5 linked regions of the Homo sapiens genome follow. The protein of the gene in region 4 interacts with the protein of the main gene of each other region in a biochemical or structural test. Each region holds a gene or a part of one and is shown on either strand. Other genes may lie near its edges.

Region 1 (4,272 bases), on a different chromosome or scaffold from region 4:
GAGTGTGAGGGGCAGGGCGTGGGGCACAGGGGCCAAGGCCTCTACAGGGCAGGTGTTTTGCCTGATGCCAGAGTGGGCCTGTTCAGCCAGTGACCAGCCAACCCCCAGGCCTCCCCAGGAAGGGTGGTGCCCTTCTCTGGGATAAGAGTTCCCTGGGCTGGTCACTTGGACTTCCAGGTGAACTTGAGAGCCATTCTCTGGGGTGGGAGCCCTGGAGCATCCCGGGAAGCCCGTCCAGGTGTGCAGAATTCCGCACCTATGCCCGGCTCTCACCTCCCCTCTGCTCTGACAGTGTTGGCCCTTGGATAGTGCCCAACGCCTGGGAGGCCCCCGCCCCCTCTCCACCTCCCCGTTTCCTCCCTCCCCTGCCTCATGGGAAGGCAGGCACCACTGGCATTTGCTCATGGTTAAAAACAAACTAGAACACTGGACAAGTAGAAGCATATTTTTAATAATAATTATTACGGTAAAACATCTTGAATAAATATGGAATATGAACTTAAATAAATAAATAAATAAATATTTTAAAAATATAAATATATAAATATTACTGATTTCTGTCAGTATAAAATATTCCCATTCTTCTGCCATGCCTGTATCAGGGTCAGTGTGGCCCAGGGCAGGTCCAGGCCACTCCCACCATGGCTGTGGCCCACCCCTTGGTCCCTCCAAGATGACCATCCTGAGTTTCTAGCTCTTGTTTCATGAGAGAGCAGCTCCCCGGCTTGGCCAGCCTCATCTGGCCGGTCTCACTCCTGGACTGGCTCCCAGCAGTCAAAGGGGATGACAAGCAGAAAGTCCTTCAGGTTCTCTTTGAAACTTTCAAAGGTGATAATCTGGGTTGCACAGGAAGTTTCCTTTAAAAAAAGAAAAATAAAAAACACTTGAGTCCAGGCAAGTGGGTAACGTGGGGGAAGGAAGCACCAGCATGTTTCTCTACTGCCTCTTAGAACTCAGAGGCCAGGAGGCCCACTCCAGGACACACCCACTGACCTGGGTCAGGTGACGCTGCTGCCACCCACGTGTTCCCCAAGGAGTGCATAGCTCTGCCAGTGGCAGCCAGAGTCAAGGGCCTGACTTAAGTGCCAGCCTGAGGTTGGCCTTCTGGGCAGTCAAACGCCTGCCTTTTTGGTCCCAGGGCAGAGCAGGGCAGCTGGGCTGAGGTCGTCTCTGGGCACCCAGAAGGAGTGGAGTCAAGGCCACAAACTTTGCTCCCTTCCCGCAGGAAGGAGTGCCTGAGGTCCTTGTCCATTCCAAGTAGCCTCCCTTCCTTGATCCTCTGCAATTCAAGCACCCCATGTGGGGCCAGAGGAAAGTCCTGCCAGAAGGTGGCACTTGGGCCTGGGCACTTCCTCTGGGCCTTGGGCAGGCCCCAAGTTTCCTTGGGTTTGCCCTCACCTCTGACCTCATTAACCATAATGACAATAATGACCAGGATAGGAGCAGCTCCTGCTGGGGAGCACTGTGGGCTTCAGCGCTCTGTGGCTCTGACTCCTTGGGATGAAATGGGCTGTCTGCCTCCTCTCTGGAGGGCTAATCATTACATAACTGTTGGCACAGAAACCCCCTGGGGTCCTGAACAGCCACAGCCATAGATCTCTCCCCATGTCGACCCCACCCCCTAGATTAAGACATTCCTGCTGGAGGCCCTGCCGTAGGCACTCACCGGGGTTGGAGGGCAGTGCTGCTTGTAGTGGCTGGCCATCATGGTCAAGGGGCCCTTGAGCTTGGTGAGGCTGCCCCGCAGGCCCTGCTTGTACAGCTCCAGGCGGGTCTGTAGGCAGGTCGGCTCCTGTGGAAAATGTCGTTCGTCGGTGAGCAGTGGCCAAGTGCCCACAGTGGTACAAGAACTCTCCACCACTCCTTTTTGCTGCTGCCCCCAGCCCCCAGGAGTAGGGCTTGGGAGGGGCACAGGCTGGGTCCAGTCATAGACCCTGCCCTGTCCATGGCAGGCACGAACCTGCCCTTCTCACTGCCCCGCCCAGGCCACCCTCAGCGGCACCTGGAGAGGAGCCCAGCCTTAGGGAAGGAGGTGACTCTCACCCCATCATTCAGGGAGAGGGGGGTGGGGCCTCACCTGGACCTGCTGGGTGGGCAAGGGTTGTTCCTGAAACCCCTCTGTGCCTCTCTGTAGTCAGCACTGTCTCAACAGGACTTGGTCTCGGGGCACAGTGAGCGCCCCAAACCCACAGCTCCTGTCTCATGAAGTGACCCCCACTTTACCACCTGTCCCCTGGTGACTCCTGGCCATTGAATGCTAGGTCTGCCCATGGCCGCTCAGCTGATAAAGGAGCTCATGTGACTGCCATAGGGGCACGGCCAGCAGCCTCTTGAGCACCCAGTTGCTACCCCCTCCTCCTGCAGCCAGCTGACTGGAGAGAAAGTGGACAACCCTGTGTGGTGCCATCTAAAATGGAGTCCCCACCTCCACCCCAGGGCAGGGGCTTCTGGAAAGCTATGTCAGAGAGAAGCATCTTACCTGGAGGTCAAACATTTCTGAGATGACTTCTACTGTTTCATTCTGTAGAAAAGGAAAATGTCATGTTATCAAGCTGACAGGCGTGGCCAGTCAGGGGCCAGCTGGGTGGCCTAGGCACAGGCCCACATTCTCTCACTTACCATCTCAGCAGCAGTGTCTCTACTCAGGTTCAGGAGACGCCGGGCCTCCTGGATGGCATTCACATGCTCCCAGGGCTGCGTGCTGGGGCTGGGCGAGCGGGCGGGTGCAGAGATGCTGCAGGCCACAGTGCCCAAGAGCAGCAGGCTCTGCAGCCACATCCTCCAGAGAACTTTAGCCTTTCTCTCTGTGTACTGGGCTCACTGGCAAAAGAGCTCTTAAATACACAGAGGAAATGATTAATGGTGACCACAAAATGCCAGGGAGGCGGGGGAACTACCTGAACTGTGGAATCTCCTGGCCCTTATCAGCCACACATGGGAACGGTGAGCCTTTTCCCTAGGTGGTCAGGCTTGGGGGTTTTCATTAATGAACCTTTCCAAGAACCGACAGCCCACCCACCCGCCTTCCTGAGGGCTCTCCAGCCCTCCCTGGGCAGTCTGAATGGGCCTGAGGCTGCCCCCTCCCTCTGAGGGGCACAGTTTGGACTTCCTGGCCTGGAATGGCTGGGGTGGGGCGTGGGAGACACTTAGATAGGGCTCCCCATCCTGCCTGTAATCCCAGGGGCCTTTGGGCAGGCTATGCCCGCCCTGGTGCCTCATTCTGACTCCAGCCTTCCTCTTCTCTGGCCACTGTGAGAGACTTGAGTGTGAGGGGAGCTCTCACAGACCTGCCCCACTGACAGTTCACATGGGCTCCCACCCAGGACCTGGAGCAGGGGGCAACCTCAGTCCAGTAAGGGGGGACCCCTGCCCCTGTGAGCAGAGGGAATGACCACCATGTGCACATCCAGCAGCGAGACTGCAGCCACTCTCAGCAAGCTTCAGAGGGGGTGTGGCTGGGTCAAGTCGGGACCCAGAGTCTGACTCTTGGCTCTGGAGCCACCTTCCTGAGTGACTCCCCTCTCTGGTTATGTGAACCTTGATTCCCTCTGCAGAGCAGGTTTGCCCCTCTGAGGTTCGGACTACACTCCTATATGTAGCCCCCAGAAGACACCAGGAGCTTCAGGCTGGCTCCAGGGCTGTGGCTGCATCCATCTCAGGTACAGGGACAATGGCTTCCCCAGCAAGGCCCTCCAGGCTTAATTTCCTACATAACCCCAGCATCCCCCAACTCCAGAGGCCTTTCTGTGGAAGTGTGGAAGTAGGAAATCTAAAGGCTCTTGAGGGGCTGACAAGTGTTTGATTTTCACAATGGAGTTCAGAGAAGACAGCACGAGTTTGTGTTTGCACAAGGTATCTGGCTCAAGCTGCCCCATGCCTGGGTTTCATAGCTAAAGGGGTGTGGGCCCACACGTGCCCATTTCTGGGTGTATGTGTGCTGCTGTGATTGGTTGTACATACAGGTGCCTGGTAGAGGGGAGGATGTTTTCCATGCAGATGCATCTATTGAGTCCTCTTACCTGCTTTATGAAAGGCTCCAGGCCTCTGAAGGTGACTCTGATACTGGAGAAGCTCCCTACTCCAGGTGCAGTGCCTCTGGGCCCTAGAGGCTGATTCAGCCTAAACCAGTGGGGTTGGACACAAGCGAGAACATTCTGCTGGACTCAGGTTGGCGAGCCTTCAGAGAGCAGGTGGAGTTCATGGCTTTAGCACTGTGGTCTGAGTCTGCAGCCCTGGCCAGTTTCCCTGTACTGTGGGAGTTTTTCTGACCTT
Region 2 (3,516 bases), on a different chromosome or scaffold from region 4:
CTGGAGTCAGGCTCTTCCGGCAAGTCAAGCTCATCCCTGGTACGAGGCGTGCGTCTCTCCTCCAGCGGCCCCGCCTTGCTCGCCGGCCTCGTGAGTCTAGATCTACCTCTCGACCCACTATGGGAGTTCCCCCGGGACAGGTGCGCTGAGCTGTGTGGGGGCAGGGACGCGGGCGCCGGGTTGCAGCCCGCCCTCCGCAGGAGTGACTCGGAGGTCTGAGGCTGGACTTTCTCCATCTCCAGGCTGGTGCTTGGGAAGCCCCTAGGCGAGGGCTGCTTTGGCCAGGTAGTACGTGCAGAGGCCTTTGGCATGGACCCTGCCCGGCCTGACCAAGCCAGCACTGTGGCCGTCAAGATGCTCAAAGGTGAGTGTGGCCCGGTGTGGTGGCTCACACCTGTAACGCCAGCACTTTAGGAGGCTGAGGGTGGGAGGATCGCTTGAATCCAGGAATTCGAGGCCAGCCTGGGCAACATGGCAAGACTTCATCTCTACAAAAAAAAAATAAGAAAATTAGTTGGGTGTGGTGGTGTGTGCCTTTAGTCTCAGTTACTAGGGAGGCTGAGGCAGGAGGATCCCTTGAATCCAGGAGTTGGAGGTTGCAGGGAGCCATGATCACGCCACTGTATTCCAGCCTGGGCAACACAGTGAGACCCTATCTGAAAAAATAAATAAATAAATAAAAATAAAAGGTGAACGTGGCAGCCTGGAGGAGGTGCTATGGCATTGGGACTAATAGAAGGGGCTCACGGTGCCACCAGGTGAGCCCTGGAGCTGGGAGAGGCTGTGGGATCCCACCCTTAAACCTGCAATTCACCTCTGCTCCTGACCCTGGCAAGTGACTTCTGAGCCTCAGTTTTCCCTTGTGTCATATGGGGTAGATAACAGTCCCTACTCCCAGCCCAAGGATTGTGGAAAGTGCCTGGCTCATAGTCAGGGCTCAATAAATCTTCACCACTGGGGTGATGATGATGAGAAGAATTTGGTGTGACAGGCTTGATATCCTGTGTCAGCATTAGTCTGTGTCAGCTTTGACTTCACATCTCCTTGTCAGCCTCACAGGCCCTCTACCTCCTTCCTTATGGTTCCCCCCAGACACACCCTCAGCCTCCCTTGGACCCTCCCTAGGTCTGCCCCCCACGTCCACTGCTGTAGGAGGACAGCCCTTCTGCTTGCACCCAGGCCCAGCCCCGGGGTGCTCTTGCTGGGCACTCCTGCACCCCACCCATCAGGGCCTCTCCTTGCAGTTCCCCAGCCCCCTCTGCAAGAATGGCCTCCACTGCTCTTCTGCTCCTCCCCTCCTCTCTACACAGCTGGGGCCACCTGGTGCTCCCTGGGAGGCAGGGATTGAGAAATGCACATTGTGTCATTGGCCCAGGGCCACAGGTCAGCCCCAGGGGCTCAGCCAGAGAAGCCAAAGCAGCCTTCTTCCCAAGCTCCCCGGCTGCACCCGGCCTGCCGCCAGCTCCCTGAATTCCCAGGCCAGTTGGAAGCCAGGCCCTGGTCAAACAGACCCCAGGGCGCCAGCCTGCTTTCCGCACCCAGAAGCTCTGACCCCATGCGGGGACTACCGCTGACCCCTCCAGCGGCAGCTTCCTTCCTTCCTTCCTGCTCCGAGCTCTTCCCCTCTCTCCTGTGTCCTGGGCCTGCCCGCTGGAAGGCCTGCCTCTTAGATCCTTGATACAGTTGCATCCTTGCAACTGCTGTGACAGGCAGGGTGTGACCCACTGCTCTGTTTCCCACAAGACGAACCTGAGGTTCAGAGACGCTAGGAGACTTTTTCAAGGCCACACAGCCTAGCAAGGATTCAGCCCTAGACCTACGTAGCCCTGGTCCAGTGCTGCTTGTCCTGCACCTGCCTCTGCATGCTCCCTCGTGCAGTTGGAGGGCAGCCTCTTCACCCCGTCTGCTGCCCTTACAGACAACGCCTCTGACAAGGACCTGGCCGACCTGGTCTCGGAGATGGAGGTGATGAAGCTGATCGGCCGACACAAGAACATCATCAACCTGCTTGGTGTCTGCACCCAGGAAGGTGGGGCCGAGGCGGGGCTGGCTGCACGGGCCGTTAGGGTGCAGAGCCAAAGCTTTGGCAGCCTCTCCACGCTCCCTCCACTCCCTCTGCAGGGCCCCTGTACGTGATCGTGGAGTGCGCCGCCAAGGGAAACCTGCGGGAGTTCCTGCGGGCCCGGCGCCCCCCAGGCCCCGACCTCAGCCCCGACGGTCCTCGGAGCAGTGAGGGGCCGCTCTCCTTCCCAGTCCTGGTCTCCTGCGCCTACCAGGTGGCCCGAGGCATGCAGTATCTGGAGTCCCGGAAGGTACAGGCGCTAGGGCTCTGAGCCCCTCTCAGTCTCTCCAGCTCCACTCTCAGGCCTGTGGCATTCAATGTCCCGACTTCTCCCTCTCTGCTCTTTTTCATGACCCCACCTCAGTGTCCCCAGGCATTCACGCTTTCCTGCATTCCCCACTCGTTCCTCACCCTTCCCCAGAGGGGAGAGGGGACGCAGGAGAAGGCACTCCCCGTTTCTAAACCTTGACCTCCTCCTCTGTAAAGTGGGTGGAGGGCCCCTGCCCCCGGGCCTGCTGGGGGGTGGTGTGTGCTCAACTCCAGGCCAGGTGTCCTGAGGCACCCAAGCCCCCGCTCCCTGCAGTGTATCCACCGGGACCTGGCTGCCCGCAATGTGCTGGTGACTGAGGACAATGTGATGAAGATTGCTGACTTTGGGCTGGCCCGCGGCGTCCACCACATTGACTACTATAAGAAAACCAGCAACGTGAGGGAGATGGGGCAGAACTGGATGGGGGTGGAGGGGCACTGGGCCCGGGGTGGCAGGCACGAGGACCTGTGGGACTCTGCACTGAGGCCCTCTCTCCCCTCCAGGGCCGCCTGCCTGTGAAGTGGATGGCGCCCGAGGCCTTGTTTGACCGGGTGTACACACACCAGAGTGACGTGTGAGTCCTGCCGGCGGTCACTGTCCTACCCCACAAAAAGGGCAAGGCACTGCCCAAAGTCACGTGGCCCCAGGAGTCATGCGCTCGAGGGCTCCTTCAGATTTGGTCTGGGACCCGAGTGGGCCCAGACTCCAGGAGGAGCCCATTCCCCAACAGCTGTGGTGGGTCATGTCTGTGGGGTCCCCCGTCCTAGCCCCGGTCGTCGGGAGGGCGCTGAGCCACACTGAGCCCTGGCCCTACCTCCAGGTGGTCTTTTGGGATCCTGCTATGGGAGATCTTCACCCTCGGGGGCTCCCCGTATCCTGGCATCCCGGTGGAGGAGCTGTTCTCGCTGCTGCGGGAGGGACATCGGATGGACCGACCCCCACACTGCCCCCCAGAGCTGTGAGGCCTCACCCTGCCCTCGACCCCACTTTCCAGTCCTCCTCCTCCTCTGCCCTGACCATGGCCTCAGGGTGTGTCCCGGCCAGAAGGACAACACTAACAACAACTCCTCGTCCTCCTCCTCCTCTTCCTCTTCCTCCTCCTCCTCTTCCTCCTCCTCCTCTTCCTCCTCCTCTTCCTCCTCCT
Region 3 (3,516 bases), on a different chromosome or scaffold from region 4:
TTCTAAAACCAATTGATCCTCTTAAGACAGCTTTCCTTTCAGAATAACACAACAGGATGTGTTGATCTTTTCTTTTTTCTTTTTTTTTTTTTTTTTTTTTTTGAGACGGAGTCTCACTCTGTCACCCAGGCTGGAGTGCAGTGGCGCAATCTCGGCTCACTGCAAGCTCTGCCTCCCGGGTTCACGCCATTCTCCTGCCTCAGCCTCCCGAGTAGCTGGGACTACAGGCACCCGCCACCACGCCCGGCTAATTTTTTGTATTTTTAGTAGAGACGGGGTTTCACCGTGTTAGCCAGGATGGTCTCGATCTCCTGACCTTGTGATCCACCCGCCTTGGCCTCCCAAAGTGCTGGGATTACAGGCGTGAGCCACCGCGCCCGGCCGATCTTTTCTTTCAACTTTTAGATATCTGTTCTCTTGAAGGCCAGGGCCCACCGCAGAACAGAATCAGGGCTGAGGCTAGACCAAAGGTACACTGAATTCAGTGCCTCCCTAAGTGCTGCTGAACACTAGAACCCAAAGATGTTCACAGACAAAGAATCCCAAGGTCAAACGTACTAGGGAGACATGGCGCCCATCCCCTACACTCTACCATGGAGAGTATGATGTAAAGGAACACACAGATTCTGCAGAGCAGGTTCCATTTTGTTTAACCCATTGCTTCTCAAACTTTTTTGAACAATGGAATCTTTTCAGTATTGGCAATATTCATATATAGCTAACATTTATTGAGTGTTTATCCCCATTTAATTCCCACCTACACTTTTAATCTATTTTGGTAGACTGACATTTATAATTTTTTTTATTTTTTATTTTATTTTATTTTTTTGAGATGGGGTCTCGCTGTATCACCCAGGCTGGAGTGCAGTGGTGCGATCTCGGGTCACTGCAAACTCCACCTCCCGGGTTCATGCCATTCTCCTGCCTCAGCCTCCCGAGTAGCTGGGACTACAGGCGCCCGCCACAACGCCTGGTTAATTTTTTGTATTTTTAGTAGAGATGGGGTTTCACCGTGTTAGCCAGGATGGTCTTGATCTCCTGACCTCGTGATCCGCCTGCCTCGGCCTCCCAAAGTGCTGGGATTACAGGCGTGAGCCACCGCGCGTGGCCGATGTTTATAATTTTTTTTGGCCAGTAGCAATTTTATTAATGATAATAAAATAACTCAAAGATATTATCAAATCTAATCTTGTTCACCTTCATAAGTGCTCAAAGCAAGACAAAAACTCATCAAAAGAAGAAAAATTAGAACAATTAATATTTTTAATTGAAGGATGGCTGAGACACTACGTAATGATGTTGGCACATCATATAGTAAAAAGTTAATCAAAACATATTAAAAATAATGAGAGGAGTGCACGTCCTTGTTGGCCATATTTCTCTCTTCAGATTTTTATGAAACATTTATGACGTAAAAATCTTTTTCTCATGCCAAAAATGATTAAAACTTGTTTTTTAAAAAGAATGCTTAGATATCATGTCTTTCATGGCCATCTCTAAGTCCTCTCTGAATTTCTAAAATTTCGAATGCCAATACATGAAGGAAATAATTGTGTGTTACTTTATAGAATGTAACAAAGTTTGCCAGAGCATAGAAACCACATATAAAGGATGGTTTCCACTACAAAAAGAGTTCAATGTCGGGACAGGGAAGTATATTTCATTCAAAAACAAACAAACAAAAAATCCAAATGCACTTTTTTTGTCCTTTCCTAGCAGAAGAACCAGGTAGTCATATAATTAATTATAACTCTCATTTCCTTTCAAATGAACTTTGGATATTCAAAATACGTGTGTGTGTGCGTGTGTGCGTGATCTATCCATGGTAAGTTTTATGATGCTAGCATTCTTTAAAACTCAGTTTTATCTTTTGGAGATAAATCTGGCTTTTTTCCCCCTAAGGTTTATTTGTATGTCATTTTTCTTTTTTTCTGAAAAATTTAAAACTTGACATTAAAAAAAGTTTTAACAACCAATAATGTGTAAATTATCTTAGGTTATTAGCTGAAACACTGCAAATTATCCTCAAATGGCATGTCAAAGGAAAGATGGATTTGCGGAAATATTTCTTGACCTGCTTCCCCATTTCCCGCCCCTGCTCGTCCTGTGCCTCACCGCTCGATGTGGTCTGCACAGAGGTGTGCCTCTCACACTTCCACTCTCCTCGGCCGTTGCCTGTGCAGATGCACTGGAGCAGGTTTCCTCGATTATCCTTCTTGCTCCAGGTGTCTCCAATTCTATAGGATGTCCTTGTGTCCTGATCGTTGCATCTATCTGTGTCACAAAGGAAGCACATACATACATCAGGTCGAGAGTCGCAAGTGGTCAATTCAAACTTAAAAAAGGAATGCTATCTATGCCTGGTAATCTATTTTTGGTAATATGTTCATATTCAGCTCTGGTGCTGCAAGGTATTACACTTCTGAAAGATGAAATTACATTTGTTACAGTGGAAAGGCAGCTGAATGGTTTAGTCTAGTTTCATCTCTCTGTCAAATAACATTTTCATTTATCTATTTATTTATTGTTTTCACACTGTTCCTTTGACTAACTTCATTCTCTGGCATTATATTTCATCTTTTTCCTTCTCAGGCTCTTCCAGGATTTTTCTTAGTCATCACTGTTTATGGCCTGCCTTTCAATAGGGACCTTGCTTTAGAAAACTAAAAACAGGCTAAGCGCGGTGGCTCACGCCTGTAATCCTAGTACTTTAGGAGGGTGGATCACCTGCAGTCAGGAGTTCAAGACCAGCCTGGGCAACATGGTGAAACCCCCGTCTCTACTAAAAATACCAAAAAAAATTAGCCGGCTGTGGTGGCGGGCGCCTGTAATCCAAGCTACTCGGGAAGCTGAGGCAAGAGAATCGCTTGAACCCGGGAGGTGGAGGTTGCAATGAGCTGAGATCACACCATTGCACTCCAGCCTGGGCGACAGGGTGAGACTGTCTCAAAAACAAAACAAAACAAAACAAAACAAAAAAAACAAGCAAACAAAAAAAAGCTTATAACAATGGGGAGGCAAGCAGGTATCAAAGGGTCTTCACCAATGGCTACAAAGAAGCTATAAGAAGGTGGTAGTATCTCTTTCTTCATTTGTTATGTAAAAAATGTAGAGGATGCACAATTTCTTTGACTAAAATATTATTTTCCCTTCCCCTATACCCAAACATCTACAGTATTTAAAAATCACTAGCAAAATAGCCCCAAATTATTCAGTGTTAGCCCTCCACTGGAAGAGTGGGATCAACATAAAATGATAATTTGTAACTAAATGACCATTAGTCTATGCGTGCATTTATCTGGTAAATAGATTATTTAAATTATAATCCAAATTTGCTCTGTGCCACGATGTGAGTATAGAGGATCTGATGTCTTTGTGAATTGGATATTGTTGCAACTCCTGGGTTAGAGAAAAAAAATTAATAGTTGATGTAGGTTCAAACAAATACACACCCACATCCATCTACCACAAGAATAGAAGTTTGCATGAAGGTATAATTACTGATTAGAGCTTTTT
Region 4 (3,516 bases):
TCTGAGCTTTATAACATATCTTTCTCTGAAGGATCAGCAGAACTTACTTAAACAACAATCTAGCTCTGGTGCCATTTTTTGATTGAAATTTTTGTTGAGATAACTATAGACTCACACACAGTGTAAGAAATAATACAAAGATCTCTTGTGCCCCTTCCTAGTTTCCGCCAATGGTAACATTTATAAAACTACAGTAAACATCACAACAATGATATTGATATTGATACAATCTACCAATCTTATTCTGATTTTCCTAGTTTTACCTGTATTCATGCTGTGTATGTTTGTGTATGTGTATCTACACAGTTCTATGACATGTATGGATTTGTATATATACATTATCTTTATACACACACACACCTTTTAAAATATAACCAAGGTCTCACTATACATAGGTTTATATCTAACTTTTTGTGTACTATAGTTTCTAAGTTATAAATACCCTTCAAATAAATCTTTAATGGCCACATGATATTCAGTGTCTAAATTAGAATCTTATTTAACAATTACTCTATTATTGTACACTTGGGTTGTTTCCATTTTTTTAACTATTATAAGTAAGAGACTTCAACAAAGACATTAAATACTATTTACCTGGTAATGATTTCCTTTGGACAGATTTGTGGAGGTAAAATTACTGGGAAAGATGAGCTTTTCACATCTTAACACGGATTTGTCCTGTCCCTGTAAGGAACCTTTCATCAGCCAGAAATAATAAATGGCATATTTTCTCACATCATCCACTTTTAGAGAAAAGCTGACTACAAACATATTCCCAATATCTCAGCGTAGAACTAGTCTACCCCAAGACAAGAAGAAAGCCCCTGTTATGAAAAAGTAGGCCTTAGCATGCATATGCTGAGCCACCCTCTGGGCTAGAGCTTATCAGATGAGCCCAACTAATGTGTGTGCCAAGCCCTTATTCTTCAGAGAAGCAGAAAGCCAGGAATTATAACTAGCATGTGACACAACGCATGGACATTCCCTTATGCTAAAAAGTCCCTACTTATTGTGTCTCACATAATCCTAAAAACTTATTTTAGGATATTCAGTTTTACAGATGAGAAAACTGAGCCCAGAAGGTTAAAAAACTTGCCCAAGGTTACATAATAAGTGTATCCAAACCCAGGCAACACTACCATAGTCTGCTCATTTAGATTCTTGCTTGTGGTCTGCACAGTACTCAGACCAGGCTCAAGTGCTCTAGAGAGGGACCAAACGGAAGGCACCAGTTAAAAGCCCCACTCTGGAAATGGAGATCCAGGCCAGAAACCATATGAGGAGACTAAAACACTTTATGAGATTTATAGTTTAAAAAGACCCCCAGTATATCAAGTCATGTAGTCTTCTATCTAGAATGAAAGTTATTTTTACCACGCAGCTGTTCTTTATGTTACACTGGCTTGTATCAGAAAATATATAAAAAAATACTAGTGATATGGTTTGGCTGTGTGTTCACCCAAATCTCACCTTGAACTGTAATAATCCCCATATTTCAAGGGCGGGGCCAGGTGGAGATAACTGAAACATGGGGGCGGTTTCCCCTATACTTTTCTTGTGGTAGTAAGTCTCACAAGATCTGGTGGTTTCATAAATGGGAGTTCCCCTGTACAAGCTCTCTTGCCTGCCACCATGTAGGACGTGCCTTTGCTTCTCCTTTGCCTTCCACCATGATTGTGAGGTCTCCCCAGCCATGTGGAACTGTGAGTCCATCAAACATCTTTCCTTTATAAATTACCTAGTCTTGGGTATGTCTTTATTAGCAGAGTGAGAACAGACTAATACAAATAGACATTAGATCACGAATACGCAGGACAATGTATACCACTCCTAGTAAACAATGAACACTCAGTTCAAGGTAACAGGTTACCATGAGCTATTAGAAATTACTTGCCTTTCTGTAAGGTGAATAAATTCCATGTTTCAATAATAAAATTAGAAGTATTTGACAGGGGATTAATAATTACTTATTAAGTTAATCTTCACATTTCTCCTACCACACCCTAAAGTGCAGAAAAAGTAAATATTAAGGAGAGAGAGTTTTTCTCGTTCAACTCCATCATTTTAGAGATGAGAAAACTGAGGTCTCACAGGGATTAAGACAGTTAATTACATGTGTATAAAACCTTGCTTTTGCCTTGACTTAAAATGTTGTATATTTAGTCTACTGTATTTATATTTAATAACAAATTACACATAAATACATACTTAACTCAGCTGGTTGCAGTGGCTCACGTCTGCAATCCCAGCACTTTGGGAGGCTGAGGCAGGCGGATCAGTTGAGGTCAAGAGTTCAAGACCAGCCTGGCCAACATGGTGAAATCCCGTCTCTACTAAAAATACAAAAAAAGAATAGCCAGGCGTGGTGGTGTGCACTGTAATCCCAGCTACTCGGGAGGTTGAGGCAGGAGATTCACTTGAACGGGGGGAGGAGGTTGCAGTGAGCCTCATTTATGCCACTGCACTCCAGCCTGGGCGACGGAGTGAGACTCTGTCTCAAAAAAAAAAAAAAAAAAAAAAAAAAAAAGAAATACGTATTTAACTTTTCCCTTAAAAAAAATTTTCCTTTAATAATTGCGTATCTTGTCCCGTGTGTCATTCTTATACCATGAGACTAAATTCTATTAATTGCACACACTCCTTAAACATCACGGTTACTTGTATTTAATATACCTGTGTAATCATAAAAAAAAACACCAAAATGCTTTGTAGAGAGCATACTTACTGAGTCTTTGTGACATTTTTCACAAAATAGACTGAATAGTAGAGAAAAAAACTGTGAAAACATGTCTTTAATAACATTTTTCCATTTTTCCAAGACTATGCATTGGCTATCACGCCACCAGCTGCATACTCATTGGCTTCACTCTGCTGATGTGAAATGCAAATGGAAAATCTCCAAAGATTTCAAGGCTTCTCTCTTCTCCCACTCCTACCAATTCTTTGAGATACTTGAGAAAAACAGACATTCACAATTCTATTTCAACAGTGTCCTCTCCCATTCAGAGGCATTCACCCCTCCATCCTTGTTGCTAAAGCTAATGCTGCCTAGAAACAGACTTATCAAAATGCAGTTGAGATTTTTAATAGTAAGACCTAAAGCCCAATGGCTAAAAGAAGAAATTTAATGCATTTCCACTCTTTTTTTTTTTTTTTTTTTTGAGATGGAGTCTCACTCTGTCGCCCAGGCTGCAGTGCCATGGCATGATCTCGGCTCATTGCAACCTCCGTCTCCTGTGTTCAAGCAATTCTCCTGCCTCAGCCTCCCAAGTAGCTGGGATTATAGGTGCCCATCACCACGCCCGGCTAATTTTTATATTTTTAGTAGAGACGGGGTTTCACCATGTTGGCCAGGCTGGTCTCGAATTCCTGACCTCAGGTGATTGGCCCACCTCGGCCTCCCAAAGTGCTGGGATTACAGGCATGAGATATCGCGCCAGGCCACATTTCCACACTTAAAAAATAAAAATAATCCCTTTTCTGCCCCCAGATCCCCAAAATATACTCACTACCCCT
Region 5 (3,516 bases), on a different chromosome or scaffold from region 4:
AGAGGCCAGGCCTCGTGTCTGACACCTGTCATCCCAGCACTCTGGGAGGCCGAGGCAGGTAGATCACTTGAGCTCAGGAGTTTAAGACCAGTCTGGGCAACATGGTGAAACCCCATCTCTATCAAAAACATGAAAAATTAGCTGGGCATGGTGGTGTGTGCCTGTAGTTCCAGCTACTCAGGAGGCTGAGATGGGAGGATCACTTGAACCCTGGAGGCAGAGGTTGCAGTGAGCAAGGTGGTCAGAGATTGAGCCACTGCACTCCAGCCTGGGTGACAGAGTGATAAAAAAGAAAGAGAGAGAGAGAGAAGGAATGAAGGAAGGGAGGGAGGAAGGAAGGAAGGAAGGAAGGAAGGAAGGAAGGAAGGAAGGAAAGGAAGAAAAAGGGAAAGGGAAAGGAAGAAGAAAGAAAGAAGAAAGAAAGACGGAAAGCAGGAAGGAAGGAAGGGAGGAAGGGAAGGAGGGACAGAAGGAGGGAGGGAGGGAATTAGTTCTAGTATTTTAAAAATCTGGGGCTAGAAGGCAACAATTGAGAACAGTTGAATAGTTAATGCCCCCTTTAGACAGGACATGGATTTTCTATTTGTCACCGTCCTCACCACTCCCTATTTTATTACATCTGGGCCAATTTACTAAACTACATGATGAGACTGTAACTGCCCAGTGGCTTCTTTGTGCCTGCTGCCCAGACAGAGCCGATTTATCAAGATGGGAGAATTGCAATAGGGAAAGAGTTTTACACACATAGAGCCAGCTAAATGGGAGAACAGAGTTTTTTTATGACTCAAATCAGCCTCCCTGAAAATTTGGAAGCTAGGGCTTTTCAAAGATAGTTTGGCAAGGAGTAGGGTGGCTAGGGAATGGGTGCTGCTGACTGGTTGGGGATGCAGTAATAGGGGTGTGAAAAATGGTCCTCGTGCACTGAGTCCACTTCTGGGTGGGGCCACAGGACTAGTTGGCAGGTCCAGGTGGGGCAGTCTGGTTGTCAGGAAGGCAAAAGCCTGAAAAGACATCTCAAAAGGCCAATCTCAAGTTCTACAGTAGTGATGTTATCTGTAGGAGTAACTTAGGAAGTTGGAAGTGTTGTGAGCTCTGGGATAAAGGCTGATAATAATCCATGTCTACATCTTAGCAGAATTCAGGCTCCTTTCATTCTCCTAACTTGGCAATATTTCATTAGTTTTACAAAGGCAGTTTAGTTTTGGGAAAGGGCTGTCATAATTTAAAATATACAACAAATTTCTTTCAAAGTTAGGTTGGCGGTCTGGTCGGGGTGGAGCCATTGGTTACGAGAAATGCAAAAAAACCTGAAGAGACATCTCAAAAGGCCAGTCTACAATAGTGATCTTATCTGCGGGGGTCATTGGGAAAGTTGCAAATCTTGTGACCTCTGGAATAATGGCTGGTAATCCTTTATGTCTACACCTTAGCAGAATTCAGGCTCCTCTCATCCTCCTAACCTCATGGTCCCTCATTAGCTTTATGAAGGTAGTTTAGTTTTGGGCAAGGGCTATTATCATTTAAAATGTACACTAGGCCGGGCGCAGTGGCTCACCCCTGTATTCCCAGCACTTTGGGAGGCCGAGGTGGGTGGATCACGAGATCGGGAGATCGAGACCATCCTGGCCAACATGGTGAAACCCTGTCTGTACTAAAAATACAAAAATTAGTTGGGTGTGCTGGCATGTGAGGATCACTTGAACCAGGGAGGCGGAGGTTGCAGTGAGCCGAGATCATGCCACTGCACTCCAGCCTGGGTGACAGAGCAAGACTCCATCTCAAAATAAAATGAAATAAAATAAAATAAACACTAAATTTGTCACAAAGTTAACTTGGCCCGAGCCCAGGAAAGCGTAAGGGCAGTTTGGAGGTTAAAGGCAAGCTGGGGGTTGGTTAGATCAAATCTCTTTCACTGACGTCATCATTTTCTCCCTGTTACAATTTCTGCAAAGACAGTTCCATGACTGGCTCCATGGACACTAGAGTGGCTTGTACACTTCACCTGAAAGATATGAGCAACCCACTGTCAGATGGTGTCTGAGAAGCTACCGCTTCCTTGGGAGTCCTTAGCAAGTCTGGCCACAGATCATAGATGTACTGGGGTGTTGTTTTCATAGTCAGCTGCTGTGTCTCCTTTGTCCTGAAGATTTTATTTTGCTCCCTTCCTATGGCAAAAAAAAAAAAAAATATATATATATATATATATATATATATATATATATATATCCTCCAATGTTACCAACAGAGAGGCTGGGTAAGCCCCCTTGGCAACTGTTTCACAGTTAACTGAGTCAAGGAGTCAGAAGAAATAGCTTAACCTGGCACTATAACTTTGGGAGAAGTGGCAATTGGGCTGCTATTACTTCTTTAAGATAAATTGTCTCATATCTGAATTGTCTCATTCAGGACCTTTTCAGCTTCAAGTGAAAGAAAATAAAAATCAAACTGGTTTAGCGAGAAAGAGATGTGTCCTTTGGACCACACACACATCTTTCCTTTCCATTGTTCACCTTATGACTTCCTTGTCTTGGCTCCATGTTTCATCTTAGGCCTTTTTTTTTTTTTTTTTTTTTTGAGACGGAGTCTTGCTCTGTCACCCAGGCTGGAGTGCAGTGGTGTGATCTCGGCTCACTGCAACCTCTGCCTCCTGGGTTCAAGCAATTCTCCTGCCTCAGCCTCCCGAGTAGCTGGGACTACAGGTGCCCGCCACCACGCCCAGCTAATTTTTTGTAATTTTAGTAGAGATGGGGTTTCACCATGTTAGCCAGGATGATCTCGATCTCCTGACCTTGTGATCTGCCTGCCTTGGCCTCCCAAAGTGCTGGGATTGCAGGTGTGAGCCTCCGTGCCCAGCCTATCTTAGGCTTTTCTTGAAACATATATTGAGTGTCCACTAGGTGCTGGTCACTAGAAACACATGGAGGTATAAGACAGACATGACTTCATGGAGCTTAGCTTATGGCAGAGGGTGGGTTGGGGAGATAAACATTGAACAAGGAATTACGCAAATGACAAATCAATGACAACATGATGGAAGATGTGAAGAAGACAGGAGCTGAGAGTTTTGAACCCAAAAGTATCTGAGACAGATTTCAATCAGTTTAGAAAGTTTATTTTGCCAAGGTTAAGGATGTGCCAGTGACACAGACTCAGGAGATCCTGATGACATGGGCCCAAGGTGGATGGGGTACAACTTGCTTTTATACATTTTAGGGAGACGTAAGACATCAATCAATACATGTGAGATTTACATTGGCTCAATCTGGAAAGGCAGGACAACTAAAAGTGGGACGGGGAGGTGCTTCCGGGTCATAGGTAGATTTTACAATTTTCTGATTGGCAATTGGTTGAATGAGCTGTTATCAATAGAAAGGAATGTCTGGGTTACATAAGGAGTTGTGGAGACCAAAGTTTTATCATGAAGATGAAGCCTCCAGGTAGCAGGCTTCAGAGAGACTAGATGGTAATTGTTTCTTATCAGACTTAAGGTCTGTGTTGATGTTAATGCTGGTTGGC

What was found.
Region 1: the proteins of SDC2 (region 4) and CSF2 form a complex in vitro, tested with the Homo sapiens proteins (one study listed by BioGRID).
Region 2: the proteins of SDC2 (region 4) and FGFR4 form a complex in vitro, tested with the Homo sapiens proteins (one large-scale study listed by IntAct).
Region 3: the proteins of SDC2 (region 4) and FN1 form a complex in vitro, tested with the Homo sapiens proteins (one study listed by BioGRID).
Region 5: of the proteins of SDC2 (region 4) and PRKCB, one has a biochemical effect on the other in vitro, tested with the Homo sapiens proteins (one study listed by BioGRID).

Annotation. Positions count from the first base shown.
Region 1 is NC_000005.10:132,072,330-132,076,601, reverse strand, and holds CSF2 (granulocyte-macrophage colony-stimulating factor precursor), read right to left. Parts: upstream 2,814-4,272; 5' UTR 2,779-2,813; coding exon 2,620-2,778; intron 2,522-2,619; coding exon 2,480-2,521; intron 1,793-2,479; coding exon 1,667-1,792; intron 858-1,666; coding exon 750-857; 3' UTR 432-749; downstream 1-431. UniProt on the Homo sapiens protein: Cytokine that stimulates the growth and differentiation of hematopoietic precursor cells from various lineages, including granulocytes, macrophages, eosinophils and erythrocytes.
Region 2 is NC_000005.10:177,093,412-177,096,927, forward strand, and holds part of FGFR4 (fibroblast growth factor receptor 4 isoform 1 precursor), read left to right. Parts: coding exon 1-140; intron 141-242; coding exon 243-364; intron 365-1,918; coding exon 1,919-2,029; intron 2,030-2,121; coding exon 2,122-2,312; intron 2,313-2,645; coding exon 2,646-2,768; intron 2,769-2,875; coding exon 2,876-2,946; intron 2,947-3,192; coding exon 3,193-3,330; intron 3,331-3,516. UniProt on the Homo sapiens protein: Tyrosine-protein kinase that acts as a cell-surface receptor for fibroblast growth factors and plays a role in the regulation of cell proliferation, differentiation and migration, and in regulation of lipid metabolism, bile acid biosynthesis, glucose uptake, vitamin D metabolism and phosphate homeostasis.
Region 3 is NC_000002.12:215,426,065-215,429,580, forward strand, and holds part of FN1 (fibronectin isoform 1 precursor), read right to left. Parts: intron 2,275-3,516; coding exon 2,116-2,274; intron 1-2,115. UniProt on the Homo sapiens protein: Fibronectins bind cell surfaces and various compounds including collagen, fibrin, heparin, DNA, and actin. Fibronectins are involved in cell adhesion, cell motility, opsonization, wound healing, and maintenance of cell shape.
Region 4 is NC_000008.11:96,500,307-96,503,822, reverse strand, and holds part of SDC2 (syndecan-2 precursor), read right to left. Parts: intron 1-3,516. UniProt on the Homo sapiens protein: Cell surface proteoglycan which regulates dendritic arbor morphogenesis.
Region 5 is NC_000016.10:24,094,481-24,097,996, forward strand, and holds part of PRKCB (protein kinase C beta type), read left to right. Parts: intron 1-3,516. UniProt on the Homo sapiens protein: Calcium-activated, phospholipid- and diacylglycerol (DAG)-dependent serine/threonine-protein kinase involved in various cellular processes such as regulation of the B-cell receptor (BCR) signalosome, oxidative stress-induced apoptosis, androgen receptor-dependent transcription regulation, insulin signaling and endothelial cells proliferation.